Homo sapiens: one gene and its partner. Each later gene encodes a partner of the first gene's protein in a complex. Each region holds a gene or a part of one and is shown on either strand. Other genes may lie near its edges.

Evidence for each region.
Region 2: the proteins of MUL1 (region 1) and UBE2D2 are in contact, whole or in part, in a crystal structure (PDB 6M2C), measured with the Homo sapiens proteins. Residues at the interface, in NP_078820.2 of Homo sapiens: Val303, Val304, Cys305, Leu306, Cys326, Ala329, Leu330, Pro331, Pro337, Ile338, Arg340; in NP_003330.1 of Homo sapiens: Met1, Arg5, Lys8, Glu9, Asp12, Phe62, Ser91, Gln92, Trp93, Ser94, Pro95, Ala96.

The regions. Positions count from the first base shown.
Region 1 is NC_000001.11:20,505,352-20,509,444, forward strand, and holds the start of MUL1 (mitochondrial ubiquitin ligase activator of NFKB 1), read right to left. Parts: upstream 2,801-4,093; 5' UTR 2,674-2,800; coding exon 2,554-2,673; exon of another isoform or gene 2,176-2,553; coding exon of another isoform or gene 2,173-2,175; intron 1-2,172. UniProt on the Homo sapiens protein: Exhibits weak E3 ubiquitin-protein ligase activity. E3 ubiquitin ligases accept ubiquitin from an E2 ubiquitin-conjugating enzyme in the form of a thioester and then directly transfer the ubiquitin to targeted substrates.
Region 2 is NC_000005.10:139,567,542-139,571,563, reverse strand, and holds part of UBE2D2 (ubiquitin-conjugating enzyme E2 D2), read right to left. Parts: intron 1-4,022.

The DNA of each region.
Region 1 (4,093 bases):
AAGTGGGATAGCTGCTTGAGGCCAGCAGTGCAAAACTAGCATGAGCAACATGCAAGACCCCATCTCTATGAAAAATAAAAAATTAGCTGGAGGTGGTGGTGTGCACCTGTAGTCCTAGCTACTTAGGAGGCTGAGGCAGGAGACTGGCATGGGCCTGGGAGCTCGAGGCTGCAATGAGCTATGTTTGTGCCACTGCACTCCAGCCTGGGCAACAGAGTAAGACCATGTCTCAAAAAAAAAAAAAAAAAAAAAAAAGAAGAGGAAAAAGAAAAAAAGAAAGAAGAAAGAAATGAAGGACAGGAAGGAAGGCCAAAGAGAAAGAAAAGGAAGGAAGGGAGGGAGAAAGAGAGGAAGGAAATAGAAAATAGAATCTAAAATATTAACAGTCCCAACTTTTTTTCCAGGAAGGGGCTATTTCATCCTCATTTAGGAACTGTTTGGCAAAGGTTTTAAGGTCACCCAAAGATGAGACCTAAAGAGTTCACTGCTTCAAAGAAGCCCTCCTCCAGCCAACTTGAGGCCAAAGTGGTTTGGAGTCAGAAAGTGAAGTATCAGATACACAGAGCTAATCACTTCAGGATTAACTTGATTATTTAATCAGGAGAAATACAGGGCAGCTGGAATCTCACTATAACGCCACTGCACAGCAAATCCAATTGCCTCATAACTTGGTTCTTTCCAGATTCCAAAACTCCCTTCATGGCAGGGACTGGAGTTCACACATTGGTTTCTTTTTTTTCTGAGATGGAGTCCTGCTCTTGTCACCCAGGCTGGAGTAGCCTGGCCCACACATTAGTTTCTAAACCCTTACTGAAAACAATCTGATAATTAAGTTAGTCAGGTTTAGGAATCCATCTTTCATATAAACATCAAATTAGGTTAGGCCCTTAGCTCTTGTATTGTGAAACTTCAGCCAAAAAGAACCCACAAACATTTACTGAGCATCTACCACTTGCCAAGTACTGTGTTAGAAGCTAGAGGAAAGAGAATGGATGAATAAGACCCTGTCTCTGACCTAAAGAGGTCCATCTCTCTGGACCAGTCAGATAGTCACAATAAAGCAATGTCAATCAGATTAAAATCCTACCCTTGGAATCAAAAGACCTAAATTTAAGTTTCAAGCTGACTAGCTGTATGGCCTTTCCTCCAAATCTCAATTTTCTGATTTGCAATGTGGTGGTAACTGTCATTTTATTTACTTCAAAAAATTATTGTGGGCCAGGCGCAGTGGCTCACGCCTGTAATCCCAGCACTTTGGGAGGCTGAGACAGAGGGATCACCTGAAGTCAGGAGTTGGAGACCAGCCTGGCCAACATGGCAAAACCCCATCTCTACTAAAAATACAAAAATTAGCCAGGCGTGGTGGCAGGTACCTGTAATCCCAGCTACTCCGGAGGCTGAGGCAGGAAAATCACTTGAACGCGGGAGGCAGAGGTTGCAGTGAGCCAAGATCGTGCCATTGCACTCCAGCCTGGGCAACAGAGCGAGACTCCGTCTCAAAAAAAAAAAGAAAAAGAAAAAGAAAAGAAAAGGAGAGGAAAGAAAGGAAAAAAAATTATTGTTAAGAAAAAAATAAAATCAAGATGAAAATGTGGCTGGGCGCAGTGGCTCACGCCTTTACATCCCAACGCTTCGGAGAGCCGAGGCGGGGAGATCACCCGACGTCAGGAGCTGGAGACCAGCCTGGCCAACATGGTGAAACCCTGTGTCTACTAAAATACAAAAAAGTTAGCTGGGCGTGGTAATCCCAGCTACTCGGGAGGCTGAAGCAGGAGAATCACTTGAACCCGGGAGGCAGGGGCTGCAGTGAGCCCAGATCCCGCCACTGCACTCCAGCCTGGGCGACACAGCAAGACTCCATCTCGAAAAAATAAAAAATAAAAATAAATGCAAATGTGTTGTGTAAACCGTAAAGCACAGTTCAGAAAAAAGCGCCATTTATAAAAATAGTTGTAATATAAAAAGGAAGCGTCTGTAAAGCAAGGAGTGGAGTGGTTCAGTAAATGGATGTCTGCACTTGCTGTTCCTTCCATCTCCCGCTAGATATCTGCATGACTCCCCTCATCTCCTCCTAGGCTCTGCTCAAATGTCACCTTATTTAAGATAGGAGATCCCCCTTTCTCCAGCATTCCATGTCCTCTCTCCCCTACCTTACTCTAAAGCATTGCTCACCATCTGTTACACCGCCTGATTTACATGTTTGCTGTCTAGTCGTACTAAAATGGTATCTCCACGAGGGGATGGACTTTCATCTGTTCGACTCACTGCCTGGAGCATCGCAGGTGTTCAATAAATATTTTTCGAGTAAAGTAATGAAGTCAAGATTCATTCTGAGTCATAAGAGGGACTTGGGAGAAAAGGAGCGGAGCAGCCGTTATCCCGAGCCCGAATCCTGCCCCTCGCTCCTCCATCTACTGGCTGGATGACACCCTTCAGAGGCTGTTTCCTTTTTTGGACAGTTTCCGACGGTGGGGCGGCCAAGGTGAATCATGGGCTCCCCAGCACCTGGGACAGAGATGACCCGGCTGAGGCCAGGCCGGCTCCAGCACTGACCTTGAGCTCTTGGGAGACCCGGGCCTTCTGCCGGTACACGGAGTACAGGGCGGCGGTGACCACAGAGGTGGTGCCCAGGAGGATGAACTGGCACAGCGAGGGCCGCCCTCCGCTCTCCATGACGGCGGCGAGCCCCGGTGGCCGACTGTGGCGCCAAGGATAGGCCTGGTGACCCCCGACTCTCCACCTCCTTCCGACCAGGACCGCACCCCCCCGGCCTAACCTGACCGGAAACTCGAAATCAGTCGCCCAGCGATGACGCACGACGCCGGAACCGGAAGCGGGGCAAGGGGTTGTAGAGGGAACCGGAAGGTGGGGTTGCCCGGGTGACAATCAAGCTGCTGCGGCCTCCAGGGAGGTCCTGTCTCCCCAGCCGGGTGTCGGAGAGCGATTGGGGAGCTGAGCGACCACCCACCGCTCCATGGCCGTCCCCTTCGAAACACGGCGCACTGGCCATGACTGACTCGCCCATCGCCCTGGTTTCCGTCCCTCTGGTTTCCTGGGGTTACTGGGCTGTTTGATGGGTTATTCCATGTCTTCGCCATTAGATTGGCAGGAAATAAAATAATTGTGTATTAAACTCTTATGAGTAATATACGTTTAAGTTTCAGAGCAAACTCTCAAGACTTGGAATTTATTCTGGCCACTTTACAGATGAGAAAAGTGAGGCCATAGAGGTTAGGGAATGATGTGCTCGAAGTCTAGTGAGTGCTAGAGAGGAATTCACCCAACTCCAAAGCCCTCAACTCTACCCCAGGAGGGCAGATTATATCACCAAAGTAGCCCCTTAATCTGCCATCACCACATAGAACAACATATTTATTAAATAATAATTACGGCTACGCTTAGTGCCTATTATGTGTCAGGTTCGAGGCGGGGGAGGTTTTGCAGGCACCATCCCACTGAACCTTCACAACACAGCTATAATGCAGATTACCGATAAAGAAACTGAGGCTCAGGTAAGTAACTTGCTCAAGGTTATACAGCTAAAAGCAATAGGTATGGCCATAAAACCCAGGGGATCCTTCTCAGAGACTGTTCCCTGATCTCTGTAATGCATCTCCTTTCTAAAATAATCGGAGATAACCCAAATCTTTCTTCTAAACATCAGCATTCATTGAGCTATCTCCTACAGGTTATGCTTTAATTTTTTTATTTGTTTGAGACAGGGTCTTGCTCTGTCGCCCAGGCTGGAGTGCAGTGGTGCAATCATAGCTCCCTGCAGCCTCCCACCCCGCAATCCTCCCACCTCAGCCTCCCCAGTAGTTAGGACTAAAGATGCATGCCACCCCCGGCTAATTTTTTAAAAAATTTTTTGTAGAGTCAAGGTCTCACTATGTTGGCCATGCTGGTCTGGAACTCCTGGGCTCAAGTGATCCTCCTGACTTGCCTTCCCAAAGTGCTGGGATTACAGGCGTGAGTCACCACACCAAGCCTAAATTCTTGTATTTTCATGTTTACATGTATAAGTATTTATGTAGGGAGAATTTCTAGAGGTAGAATTGCTAGGTCAATGGGTGTTGGCACCATTAATCTTGAT
Region 2 (4,022 bases), on another chromosome or scaffold:
AATGTTAGGCAAGTTTATTTCTCCCACTGTTTCCTTATCTAACCTGGGGAGAACAGAATTATTGAAAGATTATTGAAAAGATCAAGTAATTCCTGATGCACAGTGAGTACTCTAAAGTGGATAGCTGAAATCTGTGTTTGTTTTTTTTTTTTTTTTTGAGAGGGAGTCTTGCTCTGTCGCCCAGACTAGAGTACAGTGGCACGACCTCGGCACACTGCAACCTCCGCCTCTTGGGTTCAAGTGATTCTCCTGCCTCAGCCTCCCAAGTAGCTGGGATTACAGGTGCCCACCACTGTGCCTGGCTAATTTTTGTATTTTTAGTAGAGATGGGGTTTCACCATGTTGGCCAGGATGGTCTCGATCTCCTGACCTCACGATCCACCCGCCTCGGCCTCCCAAAGTGCTGGGATTACAGGCATGAGCCACCGCGCCCAGCCGATCTGTTGTTTTAATACCTTGAAGGAAATCCCTAACAACTCACACGTAAGATTTATATTTTCTCTGCAGAACAGGTACTCTGTTCATCTGCTGAGATTAAAATAATGTTTAAGGTGGAAGGACAGTGGTTTTTAGTCTTTTTAGAGATTAAAAACCCATTTGAGGCTGCTCTGCCTAGGGAGTAGCCATTCTTTATTCCTTTACTTTCCTAATAAACTTGCTTTCACTTAAAAAACAAAATCCATTTGACTCTGATGAAAGATATATGCAGAAAGCCGGGGGTGGTGGCTCATGCCTGTAATCCCAACACTTTGGGAGGCCAAGGCAGGTGGATCACTTGAGGTCAGGAGTTCCAAACCAGCCGAGGTGGGTGGATCACGAGGTCAGGAGATCGAGACCATCCTGGCTAACATAGTGAGACCCCATCTCTACTAAAAATACAAAAAATTAGCTGGGCATCATGGCACGCGCCTGTAGTCTCAGCTACTCTGGAGGCTGAAGCTGGAGAATTGCTTGAACTCAGGAGGCAGAGGTTGCAGTGAGCCGAGATCACACAACTGCACTCCAGCCTGGGCGTCAGAGCTAGACTCCATCTCAAATAAAAACAAAAAACAAAAATTAGCCGGGCGTGGTGGCATGCACCTGTGGTCCCAGCAACTTGGGAGGCTGAGGCAGGAGAATCTCTTGAACCTGGGAGGCAGAGGTTGCGGTGAGCCGAGATTGCACAACTGCACTTCAGCCTGGGCGACAGAGGTAGAGACTCCGTTTCGGGGGAAAAAAAGGCGGGGTGGTGGTGGTGGTGAGAATAGAACACCAAATTTGCAATAGTTGTTTTGTTGTTGTTGTTGTTGTTTTGACACAGAATCTGGCTCTGCTGCCCAGGCTGGAGTGCAGTGGTATGATCACAGCTCACCGTAGCCTTAACCTTTCATCCAGGCTCAAGTGATCCTCCTGTCTCAGCCTCCTGAGTAGCTAGGACTACAGGCACACATCACCATGCCCAGCTAATTTTGTTTCACTTTGTTTCGCTTTTGTAGAGACAGGGTCTCCCATTACAGACCAAGCTGGTCTTGAACTCCTAGGTACAAGCAATCCTCCCACCTTGGCCTCCCAGTGTTGGGATTACAGGCATGAGCCACTGTGTCAAGCCTAAATTTGCAGTTTCAAGCAGTATGAGCAACCTTGCCAATCATATAAAGGGAAGTTGAGGAAGATCTTCAGGTTCCAGGACACAGTTTAAATATCCAATTGTTTGAACAAAAGAAAAAAGGCTGCATCCTCTGGATTTATATACCTAACAGCTATGTAAGGATAACACATGGCTTGCCAGAAAATACACTGGACAGTCCAGAAATCCAGGTTCTCAATTCAGACCTACTCTTACCTGGTAGGTCACACGGCCTTTCCAGACAGCAGCCCTGAGATGTGCTGCAGTGCTAACATTTTATGATTCTATTACCCAAAATCTCACTTGACTCTGCAGACAGAAGAACAAACACTACTTTATTTCCCTATATTATAGTTTAACATGATTTTGAAGGTTTGCCTGGAAATCTAACCATCAAAACTTTATTTCTACAGACAAAACAAGTGTGTTTCTGCATTTCTGGGATGAGGCTGCAAAGGTTCCTGGTAGCATGAGGCATGAGTCAGATACTCCTATCCTGGGAACTGCCTAGGATATTTTAAGAGAAATATACAGAATTGGACCTTGTCAAAACCTCTTCCTTGTCAGTCATCAGTACAGTAATATACACTGGGAGACTTCAGAGAAAACCTAGATTTATTAACAGTTATCCTCGATGGCTGTTTGAATTATATTTAAATAACAATCTAGTAGAGCCAAAGAAAGTGCCTTAATTCAATGATCTTTTGTAAAGGAAATAAAAAATACTTTTTTAGTGGGGAAAAAAAAATTCCCAGAACTTATGTGAAGAAGCTCACCTTTTGGAGTAAGAAGGTATCCAAGATAGAACTATCCAAGATAGAACTAATTTAAATAGCCATATTCAGACAACCATTTATTAAAGTTCCCAATACTCCACAGGACTACCTGTTAATTCATCATTTTGATAGGAATTCAATCAGTCCTTACCTCTAATATTAATCTAATATATGGTACCACACCTCTAGTACAGTATTTTTTTTTCTTTTTTGAGACGGAGTCTTGCTCTGTTGCCCAAGCTGGACTGCAGTGGTGCGATCTCAGCTCACCACAACCTCCACCTCCCGGGTTCAAGCAACTCTCTGCCTTAGCCTCCCCAGTAACTGGGATCACAGGTGCTCACCACCATGCCCGGCTAATTTTTATATTTTTAGTAGAGACAGGGTTTCACCATCTTGACTAGGCTGGTATTGAACTCCTGACCTCGTGATCCACTCACCTCGGCATCCCAAAATGCTGGGATTACAGGCGTGAGTCACCGCGCCCGGCCTACAGTATTTTTTATTTTCATTTTTTTCTTTTTCTAGACAGAGTTTCGCTCTGTCGCCCAGGCTAGAATGCAGCGGCGCGATCTCCACTTACTGCAAGCTCTGCCTCCCGGTTCACGCCATTCTCCTGCCTCAGTCTCCCGAATAGCTGGGACTACAGGCACCTGCCACCACACTGACTAATTTTTTGTATTTTTAGTAGAGATGGGGTTTCACCGTGTTAGCCAGGATGGTCTCGATTTCCTGACCTTGTGATCCACCTGTCTTGGCCTCCCAAAGTGCTGGGATTACAGGCATGAGCCACAGCGCCCAGCCCGGCCTACAGTATTTTTAAGCAATTTTTTTTTTTTTGAGATGGAGTCTCGCTGTTGCAAAGGCTGGAGTGCAGTGGCGAGATCTTGGCTCACTGCAACCTCTGCCTCCCAGGTTCAAGCAACTCTCCTGCCTCAGCCTCCTGAGTAGCTGGGATTACAGGTGAGTGCCACCACACCTGGCTAATTTTTGTATTTTTAGTAGAGACAGGGTTTCACCATATTGGGCAGGCTGGTCTCGAACTCCTGACCTCAGGTGGTCGGCCCGCCTCAGCCTCCCAAAGTACTGGGGGATTACAGGCATAAGCCACCGCACCCAGCCTAAGCAATTTTTTAAAATACAGTACTGTTCAGCGTTACAACTACTTTCTTTAAGATCATGCTTCGGTAACTTCCCAATCTCAGACATTTTCAAAGTGTATTGTCAGTCTACAGAGAAACTCAAAACATGAAACAGATCATAATGGAAGAGTAATACATAAACTTCTACGGGATCAATGTATTTACAAAACTGGTTTTCCCAAGACCTCACACAAAACCATACAAAAGGCGGGGCACAGTGGCTCACGCCTGTAATCCCAGCACTTTGGGAGGTCGAGGCGGGTGGATCACTGGAGGTCAGGAGTTTGAGACCAGCTTGGCCAACATGGTGAAACCCCGTCTCTACTGAAAATACAAAAAGTAGCTGGGCATGGGGGTGCATGCCTGTAGTCCCAGCTACTCGGGAGACTGAGGCAGGAGAATGGCGTGAACCCAGGAGGCAGAGCTTGCAGTGAGCCGAGATTGTGCCACTGCACTCCAGCCTGGGCAACAGAGCGAGACTCTATCTCAAAAAAAAAA